Regions from separate parts of the Homo sapiens genome. Here all the other regions are linked to region 3. The links come from fine-mapping of genetic effects on gene expression. A gene starts in region 3. Each other region holds a variant in brackets. All regions are shown on one strand. Distances are between the middles of the regions.

What was found. PIP is the estimated chance that this variant, and not a neighbour inherited with it, causes the effect.
Region 1: its variant is fine-mapped to the expression of TRIM7 in lung (TOPMed, PIP above 0.99).
Region 2: its variant is fine-mapped to the expression of TRIM7 in aorta (GTEx, PIP above 0.99).

Annotation. Positions count from the first base shown.
Region 1 is chr5:181,129,144-181,137,319 of GRCh38, forward strand. OR2V1 (olfactory receptor family 2 subfamily V member 1) reads right to left here and starts at 2,026. Exons shown (of 4, transcript NM_001258283.2): 1 at 1,907-2,026; 2 at 1,030-1,072; 3 at 377-432. RefSeq lists an enhancer at 812-1,313. The variant T/TGG (reference allele first, on the strand shown) is at 3,873.
Region 2 is chr5:181,285,433-181,293,608 of GRCh38, forward strand. No RefSeq gene overlaps it. Among named protein-coding and RNA genes, the nearest start is that of TRIM52-AS1, 28 kb to the left of the region's middle. The variant A/G (reference allele first, on the strand shown) is at 3,563.
Region 3 is chr5:181,200,631-181,208,806 of GRCh38, forward strand. TRIM7 (tripartite motif containing 7) reads right to left here and starts at 4,566. Exons shown (of 7, transcript NM_203293.3): 1 at 3,959-4,566; 2 at 2,915-3,010. The coding sequence starts at 4,480. TRIM7-AS1 (TRIM7 antisense RNA 1) reads left to right here. Exons shown (of 2, transcript XR_001743050.3): 1 at 1-386; 2 at 1,958-2,487. It overlaps TRA-TGC3-1 (tRNA-Ala (anticodon TGC) 3-1), which reads left to right and starts at 6,238; the gene lies at 6,238-6,309. TRK-CTT2-2 (tRNA-Lys (anticodon CTT) 2-2) reads left to right here and starts at 7,125; the gene lies at 7,125-7,197. RefSeq lists silencers at 1,719-2,013, 3,825-3,894, 3,935-4,264, 4,525-4,844, 6,149-6,248 and enhancers at 6,949-7,008, 7,389-7,478.

The DNA of each region.
Region 1 (8,176 bases), 71 kb before region 3:
ATCGTTTGAGCCTGAAAGTTCAAGCTGGCAGTGATCTATGTTCACGCCACTGCACTCCAGCCTGGGTGACAGAGCGAGCTTTGTCTCCAAAATAAAAATAAAATAAAACATTACCTGGGCGTGGTGGTGTGCACCTGTAGTTCCAGTTACTTGGAAGACTGAGGCAGATCACTTGAGCCTAGGAATTTGAGGCTGCAGTGAGCTACGATCACACCACTGCACTCCAGCCTGAATGATAGAGCTATGACATTGTGTGATTTGGAGGGGGTTTCTACAGGAGCAAATCTGTTCCCACAGCGACCAAGCACCCTCTCAGCCATATCAACCAGCAAAATACACCAGATGCCCCAGCAGAAGAACGGTCTCCCAGCCTTACCACCATGTTCAGAGGCACCAGCCACTTGTGCCTCTCAGGACACAGACGGCAAGATCCTGTCTCAGAAAAAAAAAATTGTATTATGAAACACAACAGAATTTATTCTTGCCTCTCACTGGCTTATCTTCCTGCTCTCTAATTTCAGACCTTTCCGTTGGGTGTTTAGTTAATGGCTTCACTTTTCTTCCTAGAAACCACAACATAGAAGAAGCCACTGCATCTCTGCAATATTCTCCCCGGCACGGGAGGACCCCGTCCCACATCAGCCCCCTCCTTCCTGCTCCTTCACCTTCGCACTCCCCACACATCTGTCCTTGTCTTCCTGCTGTGGACCATCCTCCACCCCAGGGACCTAGAGCCCAGTCTCCAACCCAGACAGAGGGAGGGGGACGGGAAAAGGGGAGTAGGACACCAAGGAAAGAGAGAGAGGTGGGTCAAAGGAAGAGAACGAGAAGAAAGAGTGAGGAGAAACATCACACCAGAAGACGGATGCCCCTCCAAACACCCACACGAAACAGTTACACCCTGATGGAGGCAGACAGCAGGAGGAAGAGCAAGTGCTGATGAACAAGATAAATGGGGACGTGAACCAGCAATGGGAGCAGGAGCTGCAGGGAAGAGAGAGGGGACGACAGGACAAGACCCTCACTCACCTGTGGGTGGGTCCCTGCAGGGGAACAAACTCAGCAGAGTCACCTGTGGAGGAGTTCCTAGCGTCAGAGCCATGCACTCATCCTCCTGTGTTTGCTCCCACTGGGTCGGGGGACAGGAGGAGCCGCAGCCCCAACCTCCTTCCTCAGCCCGCACCGACTACTCATCGGGTTGTGGAGCCCACGGCACCCTCAGCCTCCAGTGGCCCCTCAGGCTCAGAGAGCAAGGCTCACACAGACCACAGCCTCCTCTCAGAGGGAGAAACAGGCTCAGGGAAGGAGCTGGTGCTGGCAGGAGAGGTGGAGCCAGGAGCAGTGCCCTGAGCCCACCCAGGATTCCCACCTGCCTCCAGGACACCCTGGCTCTGGCCAGGTGGCAGAACCGCCTCCCACTGCCCACACAGGTACTGAACCCAGACACGGGGTGAAGAGGGGAAGCTGACTTCAGACCTCAGCTCCCAGGGGACCCCACAGACTCCAGCCCTGGAAGAGGTGCTCCCAAGATTACAATTAAAAAGACCCACAGAGGGACCTGGGGACAGGAACAGGAGCAGGGCCAGTGGGGACAGCGTGAGGAAACCCAGCTGGGGGAGGAGGAACGCAGGGCAGAGGAATACAGGAATGCGGAGGACATTCTTGGTGCCCTACATTGCCCCCCCACACACACATCAGCACTTCCCAGCGACCTCCAGGGCCCTCATGGGGTCTCCATGTCACAGCTGTCCCTTGGGCCCTCGCTGCACCCCACACCTGTCCTTCACCTGCCCCCATTAAGTCAGCCTACATCACCCGTGACATGCAAAGCACTGGGTGGGGGGCTCTGGACACAGTCCTTGCTCAAGGGGTCTACAGCCTCGTGGGAGGGAAAGAACAGCCCCACCTTCACGAGAGTCGGGTGGAGCCTGGGGGCCTGGTTGGGATCCTCATAAACCTGACAGGCGTTTCTGCAGGGTCAGTGTCTTCGTGGGCTGCTGGGGATGGGGCTGAAGTCCACGGTTCTGATGCTGCCACTGCCTTTTACTCTCAAGAGCATTTCACATCGGAGGATGCATTTTATGGTCACTCTGTGGCTATTTATGTCCCATGGAAGCAGGCCATTTTCTCAGGGGCCAATGTGCTTGAAATCCCCTTGCCACATGGCTCAGACACCAGAGGCGTTTGTTCCTTCTGAATCTCGACTTCCTTGTGTGTCTTTGCTACCACACTTTTGGTGTGTGCCCTCTTCCTGATCCAGCTTCCAGCTATGGCAGGAGTCTGAGGAACATGCAGGCGAGGAGGCCATGAGGGAGACACAGGAAGACCGGGGCAGAGAGAGGTAGACTAGGGAGGAAGGGAATGGCCACCTCGCAGCTGGAGTGGGGCAGGCTGGCTTTTGAGGACTGGACCTGCAGCGTCTCCCACTCCTCTCCCACACCGGCCTTCTCCTCTATCCTCCTATGCACCCAACGCTTTCCACACTCACACTTTTTCTCCAGCCACTTCTCCCCACCGGCACTTCCTCTGTCTTCTTCCTCTGTTACTCTTCAGCCTTATCTAATTCCCCAAGACCGAGCTCAAGCCCACCTCCATTCAGATTCCTCCGGAACTCAATCCACCATGACCTCCGCCGGCCATGGCTTCCTGTCTACACTCTGGCAGCGTATGTCCATGGCCTGCTGACAGCTCTTGTATTGCCTTTTATCGTATTATTCAGGGGGAACTTTTGATCATGTGCAAACAAGGAAACACTTTTATTTTTGTACAGCCACTGCTTTTAAATAAGACATCACAATTCATTCTCCACATCTTCATGACATCTCATGCAGATCAAGAGTTTTCTGGTGACTTTGGGTGGTAAGACGAAGGCTCATTTATATATTCTAAAATCCAGTCCATTGAAAATCAAAATTTGAATCTCACATTCAATTCAGTGTTGGTCCCCTTGACACAGCCTAAATCAAGACTAACTTGGGGCTTGGAGTCCCACAGTAGAGAAGGGAGAAGAGTCTGCTAACAGCAATCATATTATGTGTCCTTTCAGATTTTAAGGGAGGTGGGGATACTCTTTGAAATGTCCGTTTTTCTCAAATAAGTTACTAGGATGTCTGAACTGATTTATTTGGAGAACTGCCCTGCATAAATAGAAGCACTGTCTTTTACATGAGTATCTTAATTTAAAAATGTTTAATCTGGCACGGTGGTGCGTGTCTGTGGTCCCAGCTACTCTGGAGGCTGAGGTGGGAGGATCATTTAAGCCCATGAGGTCAGGGCTGCAGTGAGCTGAGATCACACCCCTGCACTTCAGCCTGGGCAACAGAGCCAGACCCTGTCTCAAAAAAAAAAATTATTGTCTAGGACATTCAAATTTTCAACCTCCCCTAATTTTTGTACTAAAATGAAAGCAGCAGCTGTCACATAAATGTCCAGGAAATGTCATTATTGATGTTTCTCTGTTAAGAATTCTTCTTAAATGCTCATCCTATTATTATGTTTTATTCTTGATATTTTAGAGAAACTTACTGATGTATTTACTGAGGAAACTATGTGATTTCTGAAACTTATTTGTAGATAATCCAGTTGTGAAGGGGAGAGGGAGAGGTGGGTGGGGAGTAGACGGAACGGTGTTGACCCTGAGCTGCCAATTGCCAGCACCGGGTGGTGAGTGCAGAGAAGTTCATTATACGATGCTTCCAGGTTTTAGGTGTGTCTAAAATGCTCTATAACAAGAACCTGGAAGGTCACTCCACACTGGTTGAGTAAACTGTAATGTATCCACATAACAGAGTGCCGTACGACTGTAAAAAGAACATCAAGTGTTTCTTCTTCTACACTGGAGGGATCTTCAGGAGGTAAGGAGGGAAAAAGCA[T/TGG]GGTGCAGAACAGAACACAGCCTGCTGCTTCTGCCGTGAGAAAGGAGGAAATCTATGGACAAGGTTGTTTTTTACATTTTCAAAATCAACTATAAAAGGATAATTGCAAACTAATAAATACGGTTCCACATAGCAGGAGGGAAGAAATGTGTGTACGAGACAGAGACAGAAACTAGGTTTTTTTTTTCTTTTAAGAGACAGGGTCTTGCTCTGTGGCCCAGGCTGGAGTGCAGCAGTGCCAACATGGCTCACTGCAGCCTCCAACTCCTGAGGCAAGGGCACTCTCCTGAGCTCCAGAGATCCTCCTGCCTCAGCCCCTGAGCAGCTAGGACCCCAGGAGCATGCCACCACACCCGGGTGATTCTTTAATTTTTTGTAGAGATGAGTCTTGCTATGTTGCCCAGGCTGGTCTCAAACTTCTGGCTTCAAGCAGTCACCCTCCTCAGCCTCCCAAAGTGCTGGGATTACAGGCAAGAGCCGCCACTCCTCGCTAAAACTACACATCTGTAAGTGTGCTTTATTTTATAATTGGACTTCAGTACATGTTTCATACAATTAAAAATCAAAATTATATCAAAAAGTAAAAAAATTTCAGCCACTGTGGACTAGTTTGTATAAGAACAACTTTCATGATAAGAACAATTGGAGAAATTGGATAAAATCTAAAAATGAAATATTTTATAAGTGATTATAAAGATGCGGAAACAGCCACGACTCAAGGGTCTGAGACCCGGGGATGTGTTCTCGGCTGAGCTGGACATTGGGTGGTGCTTTTCCTCTCCAGGCATTTGCTGACTCATCCCTGGCACAGGGCCCAGAGGCTGGGAAGCTGAGCGAAGCCTCTTGTCATCTCACAGATCTGGGAGGGAAGAAATTGGGTTTAGAGACCTCAAAAACACCCTGACCTCCAGCTAGGACCCCAGGAACACTACACACTAAGAGTAATTATTAATCAGAAATAGAGAATTCTCACAAAGACTGAACCCAGCTTCACGCGGATCAGCCACAGGTTCACACGCATCAGCCACAGACTGGCTTAAGGAAACCAGCTGCTCATCTAGCTGCCCCACATAAGGAACGGTAAATCTTCTCTAGAAGAAAAGGATATTACCCACAGCTTCAGATTATTCGCATCATTTGTCTGCCATTCAAGAAAAAATTACCAGGCATTCTAGGGACAGGATAAAATGACCAAATTCAAAAAGACAAAAAAGAAACAAACTTAAAGGAGATCCAGACTGGCGTTGCCATTCATGAGCTTTAAATTAACTGTTATCACGATGCTCGAGAGAAAAAAACCAAGACGGATAATTTCACCAGACACCTGTAACCTTTGAAAAGAATAAAACGAAACTCTAGAACTGAAAGTATCAAAAACTAAATAAACAACTCAATAGATAGATTTGGCAATAGTTTAGACACAGATAGTTAGTGAACTGAGTAAGAGGTCAACAGACAAAACCAAGGCTGAAACACAGAGAGAAGAGAATACAAACCATGGAAGGGAGGGTGAGAAACACACGGGCATAGCAAGGTCTCACTTCAGTGCTGCTGGAGTCCCAAAAGTAGAGGGGCAGGAAAGAACAGGATGGAAACAATATTTTTAAAAGATATAGATGGAAGCCGAGGGGTGGTAAAAGCCAGGTCTCATGGCTGATGCCTGTAATCTCAGCACTTTGGGAGGCCAAGGCATGAGGATCACTTGAGGCCAGGAGTTGGAGACCAGCCTGGGCAAAATAGAGAGACCCCATCTCTACAAAAAATTTAAAAATTAGCCAGGTGCAGTGGTGGGCACCTGTGGACCCAGCTGCTTGGGAGACTGAGGCAGGAGGATCACTTAAGCACAGGAGGCTGAGGCTGCAGTGAGCCAAGATTGTGTCACTGCACTCCAGCCTGGGCAAAAGAGTGAGACCCTGTCTCAATTAAAAAAAAAAAGAAAGAAAAGAAAGAAAAAAATATGGGTGGAGCAATTTTTTAAAGTGATGAAAGAGATCAAGTCACAGATTAAGAAACTCTGTTAACTAATAGCAAGAAGAATACAAAGAAGTCCAAGCTAGGCTCACCACAGCATTACAGCTGAGAAGCAAAACAAACAGAAAAGTGTTAGCAGTATCCAGAAGAAAAAACAAAGTACATTAAAAAGTGCAACAAGAAGACTAACAGCAGGCTTTTCAACACACACACACACACACACACACTGCAACAAGAAGACTAACAGCAGGCTTTTCAACACACACACACACACACACACACACACAACAGTGATGAAAGCTAACATGGCACCCTTAACGTCTTGGAATAAAATTACTGCCCACATAGAATTATAGTTCCAACAGAAATATTATTTTAAGATGAAGGCAAATAAAGATGAATTCATGCAAACAAAAACTTTTAGAGTATTTTCTGTCAGAAGATTTGCACCAAAACAAAACAAAACCACAAAAATGAAAAAAGGAACCAAAACAAAGAGCAAAATACAAAACCCTAAAAGGAATTCTACAAGCAGAAGCAGAAGGAAAATGATCCCAGAGGATGGACATGCAAAGAGGGGTCTGGAGAACAACAGAAAGGGTAAATGTGTGAGTGAATCCATCTGCATATTGACAATATCAAATCAGGTTAGTGAGGCTGCGTGGGGTTTGAGATATGTGTAGAATCTAACTGCATAAAAACAACGACAAAGAAGGCGGAGTGGTGGGGAACTAACGCGTTCTAAGGTCCTCGTGAAAGCCAGGAAGTAGCAAAAATACATCTTTATATGAGGCACCAGTAAGTGAGGTATGTGGCTTGTAATTTCCAGGTCGCCACTTAAAGAATAAAGAAAATAACTAAGTTATTAGAGAAAGAAGAAATAAATGGCAAATACCACTTTTTTTCTTTGAGACAGAGTCTCGCTCTGTCACCCAGGCTGGAGTGAGTGCAGTGGTACAATCTCAGCTCACTGCAACCTCCGCCTCCTGGACTCAAGTGATTCTCCTGCCTCAGCTTCCTGAGTAGCTGGGATTATAGGCCTGCATCACCGCCCAGCTAATTTTTGTATTTTAAGTAGAGAGGGGGTTTCACCATGTTAGCCAAGCTGGTCTCAAACTCCTAGAGTCAAGTCATCCTCCTGCTTCGACCTTCCAAAGTGCTGAGATGACAGGCATGAGCCACCGCACCTGACCAAATATCACTTTCTTAGTTCCTCTCCTAAGTGCCCCCAAAAAAGGCAGGGAGAGAAAGATAAGCAAAGTAGGACAAGTAAAAATCAAATAGTAAGATTATGGATTTAAACCTAAATATATCAGATATTGGTATGAGCTTAATTATATCCCTCAAAATTTATATATTGAAGCCCTAATCCTCAGTACCTCCAAATGTGACTATATTTGGTGATGGGTGTAATGGAGGTGATTAAATTAAAATGAGGCTCTTAGGGTGGGCCCTAATCCAAATTGACTTGTTTCCTTCTGAGAAAATAAATTTCTATTGTTTAAGCCACTTCGTCTGTGGTACTATGATAAGTTAGCCCTGGCAAACTGATCCAGACATTACATGTACATTAAATGTAAATGGACTAAATACATCAAATAAGAGATGGGCCAGGCACAGTGGCTCATGCCTGTAATCAGGCGTGACTCCATCTCAAAAAAAAAAAGAGATGAAGATATCAGGCTCAATTTTTTAAAAAATATTAATATTTGCTCTTAAAATTTAGGATATTAACAGGTATAAAACAAAAGGAGGGACAAATACATACCCAGCCAACAATAACAACAAATGTGATGAAGTCAATGCTAAATTCAGGCAAAGCAGACGTAAAAGCATTAAGCTAAACTGGAAGAAAAGGTATTTCACAAAAGGATCAACCCTCCAAGAAGATACAGCAACAATATGTATATACACATGTACATATATAACCTCAAATATACAAAGGGAAATTTGACGGAACTAAAAGTGGAAATAGGCCAGACACGGGGGCTCACGCCTATAATCCCAGCACTTTGGAAGGTTGAGGTGTGCAGATCACAAGGTCAGGAGATCGAGACCATCCTGGCTAACACAGTGAAACCCTGTCTGTACTAAAAATACAAAAAATTAGCCGGTGTGGTGGGGGGCGCCTGTAGTCCCAGCTACTCGGGAGGCTGAGGCAAGAGAATGGCGTGAACCCGGGAGACGGAGCTTGCAGTGAGCTGAGATCGCGCCACTGCACTCCAGCCTGGGCGACACAGCGAGACTCCGTCTCAAAAAAAAAAAAAAAAGTGGAAATAGACAAGTTCACAAAAATAATGTGAGATTTTAGCACAATTGTCTTAGTTATTTTA
Region 2 (8,176 bases), 85 kb after region 3:
GTTCAAACTATTTCTCCTGCCTCAGCCTCCTGAGTAGCTGGGATTACAGGCACGGTCCACCACGACCGGCTAATTTTTGTGTCTTTAGTAGAGATGAGGTTTCACCATATTGGTCATGCTGGTCTCGAACTACTTACCTCAGGTGATCCACCTGCCTCGGCCTCCCAAAGTGTTGGGGTTACAGGTGTGAGCCACCACGCCAAGCCTATTTATTTTAGATACAGTGTCTTCCTCTGTTGACCAGGTTGAAGTGCAGGGGTGTAGTCATAGCTCACTGCAGGCTCAGACAGTCCTTCTGCCATGGCTTTCCAAAGTGCTGGGATTACAGGCATAGGCCACTGCACCTGGCCTAAATTGTGATAATTTTACAGTTTGCCTCAAACGAGGGTTGATGTCTGGGCAAGGTCTGCTGGGGGCCTCCCATATGCAGGCAGTCTCTCTGCTGTGCCCTCCACCAGCACTGAGGGTCACCTGCCCACAGGCACCCCTCTCCTTTCCCCTCTGGGGAAGGCCAGAAGTGACTTTTGAGGTTACCTGAGGGTCTTTGTCTGGAAAAGGGTGTGAAGCTGAAGCCGATGGCCTCAGTGTCCAAAGGGGAACACTTCCCACAGGCGTTGGGAAGCCACAGGCCTGACAGTGGGGTCCTGGTCTTGGCGGTCTCAGTCACCTGGCCACCCATTCCTTCCTCACTTAGGCATCCACCTGGCGGGCTGCCCACACCCTCTTCTGTCTGTGCTCAGCCAATCAGGCAAGCCAGGGTTACAGCCCTCCCTGTCCTGGGCCCTGGCTCCATGAAGCACCATGTGCCTTGGAAGACCTCCCCGATTGATCCTGTCTCCCCAGTATCTTCTGCTAAGGCAGAGGTTTCCCTGGGCCCCTGCTCTGGTCCGCTTCCTTGGCACAGTTTGTAGCTGTGCCTGACACAGCCCACCTGCCTGGCTTCTGTCTCAAACCCACAGCCAGGCCATGTGACAGCCGCTGCCTGTGCCCAAACATTCATCCAGCCCCACCCAGGAGAGCCAGACAGGCACTCATACCCTCACCCACACACCCCCACCCACACACCCCCACCCGCACACCCTCACCTGCACAATGTCACCCACACACCCTAACCCGCCTGGCCCTGCTGCGCCCCCACCCCACTCTCCCTCTAAACCTACTGGGGGAGCAGCTTCCCCTATATTTGCTTGCTCCACCTCCTCCTAGAGCTGGGTCACATACCAATTCCCACACTCTTGGCAGGTTGGTCATGGCCCTGGCAGGTCTGAGGACAGGATGGACACAGGACTGTGTGTAGCATAGAAAGGTCAGGGAGTGCAGCCTCCTACTCTGTGCCAGCTGCCAGCCCCGGAGCTTACTAGGCTGATGGGGACAAAGAATGCACCAGAGGGGACAGTGACCATTGTCCCTGGGTTAGTCCACCACAGGACTGATGGGAAGTTCATGGATGTACTGATTGCCCTGTTGCATTTGTCCTCAGGGGCGGATGCTGAGATGGAGTTAGGAGAGCAAAGGGGAGGAAGGGAGCTGGGCATGGTGGCTCATGCCTGTAAATCCTAGCACTTGGGGAGGCCCAGGTGGGAGGATTTCTTGAGGCCAGGAGTTTGAGACCAGCCTGGGCAACATAGCAAGACCCTGTCTCTACCAAAAAAAATTAAAAATTAGCCAGGTGTGGTGGCTGTATTCCCAGCTACTTGGGAGGCTGAGGTGGGCGGAACAGTTGAGCCTAGGAGTTGTCAATAGAAATCAAGTGTTGGGATATTGAGAATAGCAGCATAATGAGGGTCCAGAGTATGTTCTTAATACTAATGGTATAATTTCGAGCTTCTGATATATACACAAACATGTATAGCTACACCAGGGATTGTGCTCAAGATTTGACTTACATTAGCTTGTTTAAGCCTCTTCCACACACTATTTGAGGCAGGTACTGTTGTTATCATTTTATGGATGACAAAACTTAGAAGCAGAGCATTTAGGAAACTTGCCCAAGATCACACAGCCATGAAGCAGACACCAGAACCAGAGCCCTAGGCTCGCAAACTTCACTGCCTTCACTCCTAGGCTGTATGTTATTCTGACCATCTCTCAGCCAGGAAGTCACTCCCTTATGCAAATGACATTGTCTGTGCTGATGGTTAAATATTTCTATTCTCACAACATGTGAAAGAGAGAGCCTGATTTGTTAGCTAAGCCCCAAGGGTTTCTCCTACCATTTCAGAGAGAGAGAAACTTTTCTTTGCCCCTAAACTGTGGCAAAGAAAACAGAGAGGAGGAAACAGCCATCAGAAGACTAAAAATCTCTCATCTCTGCAAATAAGAATTCACTCTAACTGAGCTTTTCTGCATGCAGCACTGGGAAGAGACCTTGTTTTTTATTCTATCAACTTACCCATTTAACAATTTATTGAGAACCTGTTGTGTACCTGATGCACTGCTGGCATTGGGTATGTAAAAATCAATGCAGCATGGTCCTTTCCCCAAGCAACTCAGTTTCCTGCTTGGTTCTCTTTTCTGGATCATTTTAATTATGGTTCACCTTTTAAGTAAAGGACAAACAGAGAAGTAGCACTGAGTCAGATTTTTGCCACTAGTCTTATACAGGTGACATATTTTTCTTAATGCTCCCCACACATGGGATCTGAGCCAGCTGAGCCCTGAAACCTCCCAGGCTGAGAACGTAGTGTGGCACTTCACATGAGACTGCGCAGAAGTTGATACAACTGGCATGTTAGCCACAGGAACTCTGCCAAGCGTTCGGGAATAGAAGGGGTGGACAGGACCCCACCTGCTTTTCCTAATCTCATGGGTATCAGGCACCAGGCAGCCTTGCCCCTGGAATGAGACATCTCAGGTAGGGGTTGTCACTGTTCCAAGCTTCCTTTGATGCCGTTTTGATCCTGGATGTAGAGTTGCCACGTGGAGAGCGAAACCACCAGAATATATAATTGAGAAAGGAATGGAAAGATGGACAGATACCTAAATAGATACATAAATACTTTGCAGAAGTCTGGGACAGTGGAACGTAGGAAGAGAGCCTCAGATAGAGAGAGAACAGTAGGTTGATTGTGGTAAAGGGAAGGCTTCACTTTGTTATTCAATATAGTTATTTATTGACTTGTTTAAACAATATGTATGTCTTTAAAATTAAAAGATAATTTGGGGCCGGGCATGGTGGCTCACACCTGTAATCCCAGCACTTGGGGAGGCTGAGGTGGGGTGGATCACGAGGTCAGAAGTTTGAGATCAGCCTGGCCAGTATGGTGAAACCCCATCTCTACTAAAAATACAAAAAGTTAGCTGGGCCTGGTGGCAGGCACCTGTAATCCCGGCTACTCAGGAGGCTGAGGCAGGAGAATCACTTGAACCTGGGAGGCGCAGGTTGTAGTGTGGTGAGATCACGCCACTGCACTCCAGCCTGGGCGACAGGAGCGAAACTCTGTCTCAAAAAACAAAACAAAACAAAACCTTGCATCCTTTCAGGGGGCTCACACCTCCCTAAGGGCCCAGTAATTAAACCCTTTGGGCCTGAGGGTGAGAAACTTTGTCTCAGTTCTTCCCC[A/G]AGTGATCAGCCCAGGTGTAAGGAAGGAGAAGCCAGAAAGCAGGACCCATGAGAAGGGCCCCCTCCTGGAGTTTGAGGCCCACTCCCTCCTGCCCCTGCCTCTCCTCTGTCCAGGACTCCTCCCTGCTCTGCCCCACTCCTGGGGCCATAACCATGGGGAGCTGTGGTTTTCTACAGGCCCCTGGGCACAAAGTGGGCAGGCTCACCTGGAGGCGATCAGAGTAACATGGCAGGAAGTGAGGGGGAAAGCCGCCCTGGAACTGCGCCTCTCTGCCCCCTGACGTCACTGGCGTGCACTCCTCCCTCCCCTCATTCAGGCAGTGGCATGAGTTCCATGTGAGCGCTGTCCTGCTCCCTCTGCTGCCTCTTTTTTTTCTTGGGGCTGCCATAACACTTTCCCTTCCCCAGCCCTGCCAACCTGGTGGGACATTGGGCTTCCCTCTCACAGGGTCCTGGGGACAGGCCCATCCTTTATCATACGCACAGAGAGACCGTTTTTTCCTTCAGGACCTGGGGAGCAGCCAGGTTCCATGAGTTAAATGCAGATCTGAACCAAGCTGGGATTGGGGTACACACTCTCCTCTACTGAAAAGTAGCTAGGGATTCCAACTAGGTGAGAAGGAGAGTGGGGCAGAGCCAGACCAGACAAGGACTGATCACCTGGAAAAAGCCTGCCATCAAAGGTCTTGGCAAATGCTGGGTGCAGTGGCTCACTCCTGTAATACCAGCACTTTGCGGGGCTGAGACAGGTGGACTACTTGAGGCAAGGAGTTCGAGTCCAGCCTGGGCAACATGGCAAAACCACATCTCTACTAGAAATACAAAAATTAGCTAGGCATGCTACACTCCTGTAATCCCAGCTACTCAGGAGACTGAGGCAGGAGAATCACTTGAACTGGGGAGGCAGAGGTCGAAGTGAGCCGAGATTGTGCCCCTGCACTCCAGTCTGGGAGACAGAGTGAAACTGGCCTCAAAAAAAAAAAAGAATATGGCCTTGGCAGAGAGGGGCCAGCCCAGCAGTGCCTTCCCTTGGGTTTCTCCTGGGTAGGCCTCTGCCATGAGGAGGTGCTTCCTTCTGCCTGTCCATGGCCCACAGCAATGGAATGTCTGCTTCTGGGGGTTGGGTGGGAGACTGCTGGCAGAACTGGAAACCTTCAGGTGGGGTTTTTTTGTTTTGTTTTGTTTTCGAGATGGAGCGTCGCTCTGTCACCCAGGCTGGAGTGCAGTGGTGGAATCTCAGTTCACTGCAACCTCCGCCCCCCTGGGTTCAAACAATTCTCCTGTCTCAGCCTCCTGAGTAGCTGAGATTACAGGCATGTGCCACCATGCCCGGCTAGTTTTTGTATTTTTTGTATAGATGGCATTTCACCATGTTGGCTGGGCTGGTCTCGAACTCCTGACCTCAAGTGATCCACCCACCTCGGCCTCCCAAAGTGCTGGGATTACAGGCATGAGCCACTGAGCCCAGCCCCTTCAGGGGGGTTTTGAGGCTTCACTACAATACTAGTTTCCTGTGGCTGCTGCAACAAATTACCACACACTTAGTGACTTAAAACAACCAAAATGTATTCCCTTACAAGTCTGAAGGCCAGAATTCTACAGTAAGTCCTTCTGAGTCAAGGTGGGAGCAGGGTTGGTGGCTTCTGAGGCTCTGCGGGAGAATCTGTTTCCTGGCCGTAGAGGTGGCCTGCACTCCTCAGCTTGTGCTGCCCGTCTTGAATGACTGGAGTTTCCTGCTTCTGTCACTACACCTCCCACCCTCTCCATCACCTGCTCTGCTCTTACAAGGATCCGAGTGAGTACATCAACCCCAAAAGCCAAAGACCCTTAACTTCATTATATCTGCAAAGCCCCTTTTGCCATATAAGGTCATGTTCACCAGTTCCCGGGATTAGGATATGGGCATCTGGGGGGCATCAGCCTGCTACAGCTAGGCTGCAAAACTGTTACACCCTCCTGGTGTTTCAGTGATTGGGAGAAAAAGGGTTGGCATTTTTTGCTTAGAGGTCCCTCTTAAACTTGTATCTGTAAGGTCGGGGGTCCCTCTTAACCTTGTGTTTTTGTTTTTGTTTTTTTTTGAGGTGGAGTCTTGCTCTGTCATCCAGGCTGGCAGTGGCGTGATCTTGGCTCACTGCAATGTCTGCCTCCTGGGTTCAGGTGATTCTCCTGCCTCAGCCTCCTGAGTAGCTGGGACTACAGGCGCCCGCCACCATGCCCTGCTGTTTTGTATTTTTGGTAGGGACGGGGTGGGGGTGGGGCTAGGGAGGGGGCTTTTGGCTATGTTGCCCTGAGCTCAAAGTGATCCGCCTGCCTCTGCTGCCAAAGTGCTGGGATTACAGGCCTGCACCACTGCACCCGGCTGCTGTAAAGTCTTATTTCACACAGCTGAGACATGTTTTAGGAAGTTTGCTAAAAGACCCCTGGAGACCGCCTCATTGTGACCTCCCTGTTATTGTGTTTAATTTGATTGAACTTCTCTGCCCTCCTGCTTTTCAGCTTCTCTAATAGTCTCCCATTAAACCATTCTAAGAACCACCAAAAAGGGGAAATTTTTTCTTGAAAGCAGTAAAATGATATGGACTGTTAGAATGTAAAATATATGAAATCAGTCATTATACGTTAGTGCTGCTCTGACATAGGGACGTATTATTGAGAAGCAACTTTTGCTTGATTTTCAGAGAAATGGAATCATCGTATCGCTGATCTATGTAAACAAACTGAAGAATTGTCTGAAAGAAAATATGGTATGTCTAAACTGGAAAAGTCCTGTAATCTTATGTTCATGGGCGTTTACACAATGGAGTTACTGTTCATCATGGGGGTACCGTGGACAAGCCCAGGGCTGCCGGCGAGTCATGCCATCCTTACACGTTTCTCCTTGTAAGGTGCTTTGTAGTGTCTACACACTTTGTTTCTAGATTGCTGCAAAGCTGAGGAAAAGTTGTATTTCTTTAGTTATTAGTTAGCATTTCTTTTAAACTTTCAGTATGGAGATTGGAAATTTATTTACATATTTATTGCAAAGCCCTGAATCTTAGGGATTTCATTGAATTATTTATTTATTTTTTTTGAGACAGAGCCTCACTCTGTCGCCCAGGCTGGAGTGCAGTGGCACGATCTCGGCTCTCTGCAACCTCCGCCTCCCGGGTTCAAGCAGTTCTCTGCCTCAGCCTCCCGAGCAGCTAGGATTACAGGCACCAGCCACCATGCCTGGCTGATTTTTGTATTTTTAGTAGAGATGGGGTTTCATGATCTTGGCTAGGCTGGTCTTGAACTGCTGACCTCCTGATCCACTCACCTCAGCCTCCCAAAGTGCTGGGATTACAGGTGTGAGCCGCCATGCCTGGCCAAATATTATTTTTTTAAATGAATTGTTTCTCTTAGTCTGTTTTGTTAAATTTGGAATTCATCCGGGTGCGGTGGCTCACACCTGTAATCCCAGCACTTTGGGAGGCCAAGGCAGGCAGATATCTAGGTCGGGAGTTCGAGACCAGCCTGACCAACATGGAGAAACCCCGTCTCTACTAAAAATACAAAATTAGACGGGTGTGGTGGCGCATGTCTGTAATCCCAGCTATTCGGGAGGCCAAGGCAGGAGAATCGCTTGAACCCAGGAGGCAGAGGTTGCGGTGAGCCGAGGTTGCACCATTGCACTCTAGCCTGGGCAAAAAGAGCAAAACTCCATCTCAAAATAAATAAATAAATAAAATGTTCAGTACTCTCCAAGGTGCCCCTATTGTCTCTACTTTTATCTTGATGCATCACTGAATTGATGTTAGATTTCAAATTCATCATTGCCCTGCTACTATTCTATCCTGAAGCCACCTTTATATAGTGATGAAAGAAATTAGCGATTTGTTATTATCCTCTCTCTGTTGGTATACATCAAATACTCACCTAAAAAAGAGCAACAACCAGTGGAAAACGTGATGTTTTTATTTGGGTGACTATTTACTTGTAACCTACTAGCAAACTATAAAATTGTATGATATGCAGAATTTTAACTGAATTGCTTTAAGTGAACATTTAAACATGATAAACAATATTGATGGTATTTATGTTAATATACTTAAAATGAACATTTTTCTTCATCATGAGTAATATAACCTACTCCTCAATGAAAACCTAGCACTAAATTTGCTAATGAATTCAATAACATTTCCATAATATTTTTAGTTACATGCTTAAGGTTCTCTTAGTGTTTCTCCCACTTTTTAATAGCTTATGCCTTTTTCACCTTTGGTTTTTTTTTGGTTCATTTTAAAGCAAAAATCTCACAACATGTGATATCTGGAAACACTGTAACCTAGTGGTAAGACCATAGGCCCTGGGGACACAGGCTGGCCACGTCTCTTCTCCTGTCTGAGCTTTAGTATCCTCTTTTGTGGTCATGAGAACTGAAGATCTGTCCCGAAGATTTGATAAGATAGTAAAGTGCTTCACATAATACCAGACATATAAATACACAGTAAATGCTTCCTCCTTATATTTTTATTGATTGATTGATGGAGACAGAATCTTGCTCTCTTGCCCAGGCTGGAATGCAGTGGCGTGATAATGGTTTCTGCAACCTCCACCTCCTGGGTTCAGGCAATTCTCCTGCCTCAGCCTCCC
Region 3 (8,176 bases):
AGGTAGCAGCACACCCCCAAGGAACGAAGTGAGAATATGCGGCATGCAAGTGTCATATTCTGTTCTTTCCATTAACAGCATACACCGGATTTTTTACTCGAGTTTTCAGATGCAGACTCATGCCCTGATCTCTTGATTTTTTATGTGAACACACGTTTGGCACTCAATATGTCCCACCAGGAAGTTCCTCTTCCTTAAAACTCCTGGGCGGAGGAAGGGAGTCCTGTGAAGTTGGGAGACCTGGGTTCAAGGTGTCCTACAATGCCCCCACCTTTCCTTCAGCTTCCAGGCAGGCTGCAGTAGCCTGGAGCGCCTTATGGATATTAACTCCCTCAACCCTGACGGCAGCCCAGTGGGGAGGGTGCACTTCCCTTCAAGTCTTACAGGTGAGGAGACAAAAGACAGACACATCACCAGGAAGTGTTAAGCCAGGCTTCTCGGCCAGTTGCCTCACAAGGAGGTAGCACAAGTGAAACAGTATTTGCCAAAATACTCTAAGCCAGGGTTTCCCAACCTTAACACAGTTGACATTTTGGGCCAGATACTTCTTGGTTGTAGGGGGCTGCCCTGTGCCTTGTAGGACATTTAGCCGCCCCTCTGGCCTCTACCACGAAATGCCAATAGCATCCCTATCCCATTGTTGACAACCAAAAATATAGTATCTCCAGACTTTGCCAGATGTCCCCTGGGGTAGGAGCATTTTCAAATAAGAGCATTCCTTCTCCCTTTTGTGTTGCAGCAATAGTTGGGCTCTACCTCTGATGTTTCATTAAGCAGGGTATTGTAAATGAGACAAGTGTCATAAATCCAGAAGTATTTTATTGCTGCAAAGAACAGGTAGAGCTCACACCTGTCATCTCAGCACTTTGGGAGGCTGAGGGGGGCAAAGTCAGGGGAGAAGGTTGCTTGAGCCCACGAGTTCCAGACCAGCCTGGGCAACACAGGAGACTACCCCCAACCCCAGCTCTACAAAAAATAAATTAAAAATTAGCCGGGTGTAGTAGTGCACACCTGTAGTCCCAGCTACTCAGGAGGCTGAAGTGGGGGGATCGCTTGAACGACTCCAGCCTTTGTGACAAAGTGAGACTCTGTCTAAAAGCAAAGCAAAACAAAACAACAACAAAAACGAATGTGGGGGTGGATGGATGGATGTTGGGAGAGGACAGAGGTGGAAGGTGTTAAGCAAGGCCTGGGGACTCCGGTCAGAGACTGTGAAGCTGCCGCCGGTGCCAGGGAAGGCCCTCTGGTTCCTGGATGTCAACCAGTGGGGGAAGAGCTGCATTGGGAGTCATTTCTCCAGTGGAGGAGGGATGAAGGTCTAGAGGGTGAGCTCTTCCTCATGGAGGAAAGTGAGTGATGAGGTAGGAAGGTCTGGGATGCACACTGGGTGCAGGCATAACAGATATAGTTGAGGGTCTGGAAAGGACCCTAGGGTGTCTGAACTCCAGGCTCCTCCTCCACCCCTCCTGACATTGAGGATGGGAGGGTCCTCTAGTTCACCTTCCTTCAATTCCCTGCCTTGACAGGTCCTAGTAGATCCTTTCATTCTTTTTTTTTTTTTTTTTTGAGATGGAGTTTCACTCTCGTTGCCCAGGCTGGAGTGCAGTGGCATGATCTTGGCTGACCGCAACCTCTACCTCCCGGGTTCAAGTGATTCTCCTGCCTCAGCCTCCCGAGTAGCTGGGATTACAGGCATGTGCCACCACGGCAGGCTAATTTTGTATTTTAAGTAGAGATGGGGTTGCTCCATGTTGGTCAGGCTGGTCTGGAATTCCCAACCTCAGGTGATCCGCCCACCTCGACCTCCCAAAGTGCTGGGATTACGGGCGTAAGCCACCGCACCCAGCCAATCCTTTTATTCTTTCAACACCTATTTACTGAGCTAGGAACTGAATTTGCAAGGTAGAAAATGACCGATGGTGATTCATGTTTGCTTATCTTTTTTTTTTTTTTTAAGGTGGAGTCTCGCTCTGTCTCCCAGGCTGGAGTGCAGTGGCGCGATCTCGGCTCACTGCAAGCTCTGCCTCCCGGGTTCACACCATTCTCCTGCCTCAGCCTCCGGAGTAGCTGGGACTACAGGCGCCCGCCACCACGCCCGGCTATTTTGTATTTTTAGTAGAGACAGGGGTTTCACCGTGTTTGCCAGGACGGTCTTGATCTCCTGACCTCGTGATCCGCCCACCTCGGCCTCCCAAAGTGCTGGGATTACAGGCGTGAGCCACCCTGCCAGGCCTCATGTTTGCTTATCTTAACCAAAATGAGCCCTCGTTTCACTTTCCTGTTCTACCCTAAGGAAGATAAAATATCATTCCAACTTGGGGTAGAGGCAGGTGCCAGTACCCAAGACCCTGGGCTGTGCAGCAGGGGCTACTGTAAACCCAAGACCCTAAACTTCCTCCCTCTGCCAGAGCCAGGGAGCAGCTCTGACGCCCTCTAGCCCCTTCTCCGTTAGCCTCGATTTCAAATAAAAACACTGTGAACATGAAATTTTTTTCACTACTGTTTTGTTGACAAAACATGCCATGAGGCTCTTTATTGTATTAATATTCCCACTTATTGAATATCCATGTTTCTCTGCAGAAATAGTAATGTGTTCCATTACAAGATGCTTCCGCAGGCCCTAACTGGTATGTTACGTAATATCAGAGTGACTGAGCGTCCTGATTCGCTGGGACAGCTCCAGTTTAAGCCAGTTGTTTTGCAATAATTATTTTAGCACTGCTTTTCACTTTAAAAAGCTCTGGTTTGTACAACAATTATGTGGACACCCTATATAATATGGACTCTATTATCTTTCTGAAATCGATTCTGCGGTTCCATAGCACACACTCCAACACCACACACACCGAGCCCTGGTGCTGAGTTCTCAGGCCTCTGTAATGTCCCACGGGGGGCCTGCGGGTGCCTGGCTCACCAGCAGCTCCTTGCTCTCCTTCTTTTCCGTGGACCGGAACACCTCACAGTCCTCCAGTTCCTTCTTCAAGACCCTCAGCCTGGACTCCAAGAGCTCCTGTAGATGAAGGGAAACAATGTAAGGTGGGGGTGAGGGGCTTCTGGAAACCCCCACCTCTGCCTTCCTGGAGCCAGCCAGGAGAAAGGGAAGGCCCTGCTCACTGAGGGGGAGGCCGGGTAGAAGTCATCTCTACAGGCTACAGGTTACACTGCGAGGTGACTCTGAAGGTCTCGGGATCTTGCTTCCCCAAAAGCATCTGCTGGACCAGCCAGACTGAAACACAAGCTCCGGCAGCCCTACCCCTAGTCGTCTCCTCTACTCTCCGCCCCCCCACCAGGAAGCCCCGTGGCTGGGAGAGTTGGAGCAGGATGGGCCAGCAAGGAGAGACTGGGGACTGCCGCCCGAGCCTCCCCGCCCCGCCCTCACCCCTGCACACACCCTCGCTGAGGCTCAGCGAGAAAATAGCAAAGAAAGGGCCCCCAGAATCGACAGCGTTGGCACAGTCAGACGGCTCTAGGTGCGCGGCTTAACCCGGGAGCCCCCTCCCTGGACATCTTGGCGAGGTCCTCTCACTCAGTTCCACGAGGTGGGGACTTTGAGCAGAGCCCGCTTCGGGGAAAGAGATAAGAGTGGGGGCAGCGGCTGCGTGGCTGTGCCGGAGACTTCCCGCGGGCAGAGAGCTGCGGAGACGCAGACCAGGCTAGAGGCTCCGAACAGACAGGAAGAACATCGCCAAGTCCGTGGGGGACGTCGCGCAGGCGGCCCAGTATCTGGCCCAGAGGGAAACGCAGTGGGGGTGGGGTGGGGGTATTGGTGATGTTGGGGGTGACAGAGAACCGCGCTCAGCCCGGGAACCAGCGCTGGGCTTCCTGGAATGGAGAAAGAAGGGAGGGGCTCACCCGGGCCTCCTGATCGACAGGCTGTTCTCTGCACCCCGTGCGCGGGAGCGCGGGACCAAGTCAGGGGGTCCCGGGGACCCACGGGGTGGGTGGGGGCTGCGCTCACCTTGGCCTCCTGCACCGCCTCGTCCAGCGGCAGCACGGCGTGCTCGCGGTGCTCGCGGGCGCGGTCGCACACCACGCAGATGGCGCGTCCGTCGTCCTGGCAGTAGAGCTTGAAGGGTTCGCCATGCTGCCCGCAGCGGGCAGCCGCTGCCCGGGCCGCGGCCGCCTGAGACCCGTGCTCTCCCGGGGCAGCCGCGGGCAGGCTGAAGCGCCGCAGGAGCGTGGCCACTGCCGCCAGCTGCCGGTTGGGCCGCAGCTGACTGGGGCGCGCGGGCTCGCGGCACTGCGGACAGGGCAGTGGGAAGGGGGGCGCGCGGGTGGCGGCCCCAACAGACCCCGCGCCCGGGCGCTCCCAGCAGCGCCCTATGCAGGCGCGGCAGAAGCTGTGGCCGCACTCGACGGACACCGGCTCACGAAAGAGCTCTAGGCAGATGGAGCACGTCGCCTCGCCCTGCAGCTCTGCCGCCAGCGCTAGAGCCTCGGCGCCGGTTCCGGGGCCGGTCCGCGGTCCCACAGCCGCCATGCGCGCTCTCCGCGCACCCAGATCTGGTCGCGCCTGGGCGGCCACTGGACCTCACAGGACGCGGAGCTGGGCGCCGAGGGCCCACTGGGAGAGGAAGGGCGGGGCTGCCACTGGGCAGGCAGAGACTCGAGCCCGGGGCGCGCCCGGCTGGGAGCCGGGAGGGGAGGCGCACGTTGACTACGGGCCATTCAAGTGCGGGACAGCGCCCTGCGCCCCGGATCTGCGCTCCACCAGCCCCCGCCCTGGCCAGCGGCCTCTCCCCCTCGCCCCCGTCCCTCAGACTCTCCAGGCCGCCCCAGCCTGACCCAGTCAGCCGCGGGAAACGGGCCGCGACAGGTGGGCGCACAAATGCTGCCAGCGCCACTCCCGGTTTCCGACCGAGGCCGACCCAGCATCGCCGGGGCAAGGGCCTGGCGCTCGGGCCACGGTGTCAGGTTCCGCCAGCGCAGGTTCGCCCCGGCCCTGTGCTGAGTTAAATTTAGAGACTGGAACCTGGTCCTGTCCCCTCACGCGCAAGCGTGGCCTTGTATCCATTCCATTACCTTTTCTGCGACTGTCCTCCGGCTTCTTTACTCTTTACTTAGTATTTGAACAGATAACACATTTATAATTTCCCATTGTATTCAGTATTATTCCCCCCCCACCGCACACACACACACACACACACACACACACACAAACCTCAGCGCTCTCTTGTCCCCCAGCTGTCTCCACAGCCCCGCAGCAGAGCTGCCTGTGTTATCCGCTTCCACACCCTCTCTCCTCGCTCACTCTGGAGGCCACTTGGATCAAGCTTTCGCCCGCACCCTCCTCAGAAACCGCCCTTGCCAATGTCACCGGGAACTTCAGCAATTCTCACCCAAAGGCGAAGACCTCGCCTCACCTCATCTGCCCCCGGATGCTCCCTCCTTCCCGACTTCCCTTCTCAGGGCCTTCCAGGACCCAGTGTCCCCGATCTTCTTGCTGTTCCTGAACCCCGTGGCCTCTGCGCTGGCTGTTCCCCTTGCGTGGACCTCTTTTCTCCCACCACCTGCATGCTCCCTCCCACCTCATTCAGGTCTTGTTTCAAACGTCTCTGCCCACGAAGCCCGCCCCGAACGCGCACACTGTGTAAAGTCGTCTCTTAGCGCGCTCCCTTCTCAGGGCCGGCTCTGTGCCCGCACTCTATCTCCTCTGGAATGTCAGCTTTCAGATGGACTGTACTAGGTTTGTTCACGGCTGAATCCTGTTTTTAGAGCAGTTCTTGGCAAGCTCAGTAAGGTTTTCTTGGATTAAACTTGGTTCGAAATTCAAAAGAGGAGCCGCAGTTCACGGTGGAAAGTAGGCCCATCGCCTGTGTCCCAGTCCTTTCTTCCTCCCGAGCAATCAACTTTACAATTCTGGATTACGTTAATCAAATATTCCGTATTTTATTGCCTCAACCCCCACTTTTAAAAAACAAAACGTAGCATCCTGCACAATTTTCCTTTCTTCTCTTTTTCAGGTCACAGTTCATTTTTGGCATCGTGCCTGATGATTGTCTCTCCTTTTTCCACAGCTGCTCCCAGGTGCTTAGCCGGGCCTAATCCTCTCTCTTGGAATCCCTTGGTCAAGACCCGCTGGTTTGGAGTCAGCGGAGGACGCTGGAACAACTCTTGCCCTGCGATGCCGGGTTTTTGCAGCGGCTGAGACCCAGCGCGTACCGGTTGCCTTCCACTCCCGGTGTCCTGAGTTAAGCGACCAATAGGGACCATCTGGGAGAGCTGCTGAGAGTAGGTGGGGATGTAGCTCAGTGGTAGAGCGCATGCTTTGCATGTATGAGGCCCCGGGTTCGATCCCCGGCATCTCCAGTGTAGTTTTGCACATTCAATTATTGTTTTCGATTTTCCTTTCAAATTTTGAAATCCAGCATGTTTGAAGAGCTCCAAGAAAAAACCCAGAGGGTGGAGTCTGCGGAGTAGAAAAAGACCGCGGCGGCCCCTGCCCTCCTCTGGGCCCCATTGTCTTTCCCTCCTGTTTTAAAATCCACACGGTACTTGACCGGGTGAGGTAGCTCACGTCTGTAATCCCAGCACTTTGGGAGGCCGAGGCGGGTGGATCACGAGGTCAGGAGTTTGAGGCCAGCCTGACTAACATGGAGAAGCCCCGTCTCTACTAAAAATACAAAAATTAGCCGGGAGTGGTGGCACACGCCTGTAATCCCAGCTACTCAGGAGGCTGAGGCAGGAGAAGTGCTTGAATCCAGGAGGCAGAGGTTGCAGTGAACCGAGATTGCGCCACGACACTCCAGCCTGGGCGACAGAGCCGCAGTTCGTGGTGAAAGGTAGGCCCATTTTTTGAGAGTCTTCTCTGTCAAAAAAAAAAAAAAAAAAAAAATCCACACGGTGAGAGCTCCAGTGGCGTCAGGGTGCACGTTTCTCCATCTCCGTGCCGTGAGCTTCATCGCGGGTAGAAAATGGCTTGGTCGCTGGTAGGGTAGAAGGGGCAGGAAACGGACGTAAGTGGGAGGGACGGTCAGGCACTGACGGCAGAGTTTGAATTTCCCAGGAGCCGAGGCACTTTAGTAGTTTTATCACACTCCAAATAAATCCAAGTTCAAACCCGCAGTTGAATACACTCCGACTCTGATCTAGAATGAAAAATTGTTGAGATACGGTCATCGGGCGCCCGGCTAGCTCAGTCGGTAGAGCATGAGACTCTTAATCTCAGGGTCGTGGGTTCGAGCCCCACGTTGGGCGGCAACTGGTCGTTTTAGTCCTAAATCTACGACTACTAGCCATACCTAAAAATATATTATAAGTAGACCAGCTCTTAGGAAAATAATCTGCTCTGAAGTCTTGCATTTCTGTGTGTGTAATACTCTTGCGGGCGCTCCACTGTTCATTATCTACCCATTATCTTGCGATACAATTAGGATTTAAAGCTGTGGTAAAATATGCCCAACAAAATTTAACACTTTTTAACTGTACAGTTCTGTAGCATTAAATACATTTAAATGGTTGTGCATCAGTCTCCAGTCCTTTTTCCTGTTTCCCAGATGAAACTCTGAACCCATTCAGCATTAACTCTCCATTCCCCTCTGCCCACAGACGCTGGCAACCACCATTCTACTTTCTGTGTCTTTGAATTTGACTCCTCTAGATACCTCATATAAGATGAATCGTGCAATATTTCCTTTTTAAATTGTCTTATTTCACTTAATGTCTTCAAGATTCATCCTTATATTTCCTTTTTAAATTGTCTTATTTCACTTAATGTCTTCAAGATTCATCCTTATTGTAGCATGTGTCAAAATTTCCTTCCTTTTAAAGCTGATTAGCATTCCATTGCACATATATACCACATTATCCATTCATCTGCCAATGGACACTTGGTTCCTTCCTCCTTTTGGCTACCGTGGATAATGCAGCTATGAACATGAGTGTACAGATATCTGTTTGAGTTTAGGCTTTCTATTTTTTTAGAGTATACATCACAAAGTGAAATTACTAGGTCATACGGCATTTCTGTTTTTGCGGAAGTGTCATACCATTTTCCACAGAGGCTACATCACAAATGAGCTTTAAAAAACATCTTTCGACCTGGCGCGGTGGCTCACGCCTGTAATCCCAGCACTTTGGGAGGCCGAGGCGGGCGGATCACGAGGTCATGAGATCGAGACCATCCTGGCTAACACGGTGAAACCCCGTTTCTACTGAAAAAAAAATACAAAAAATT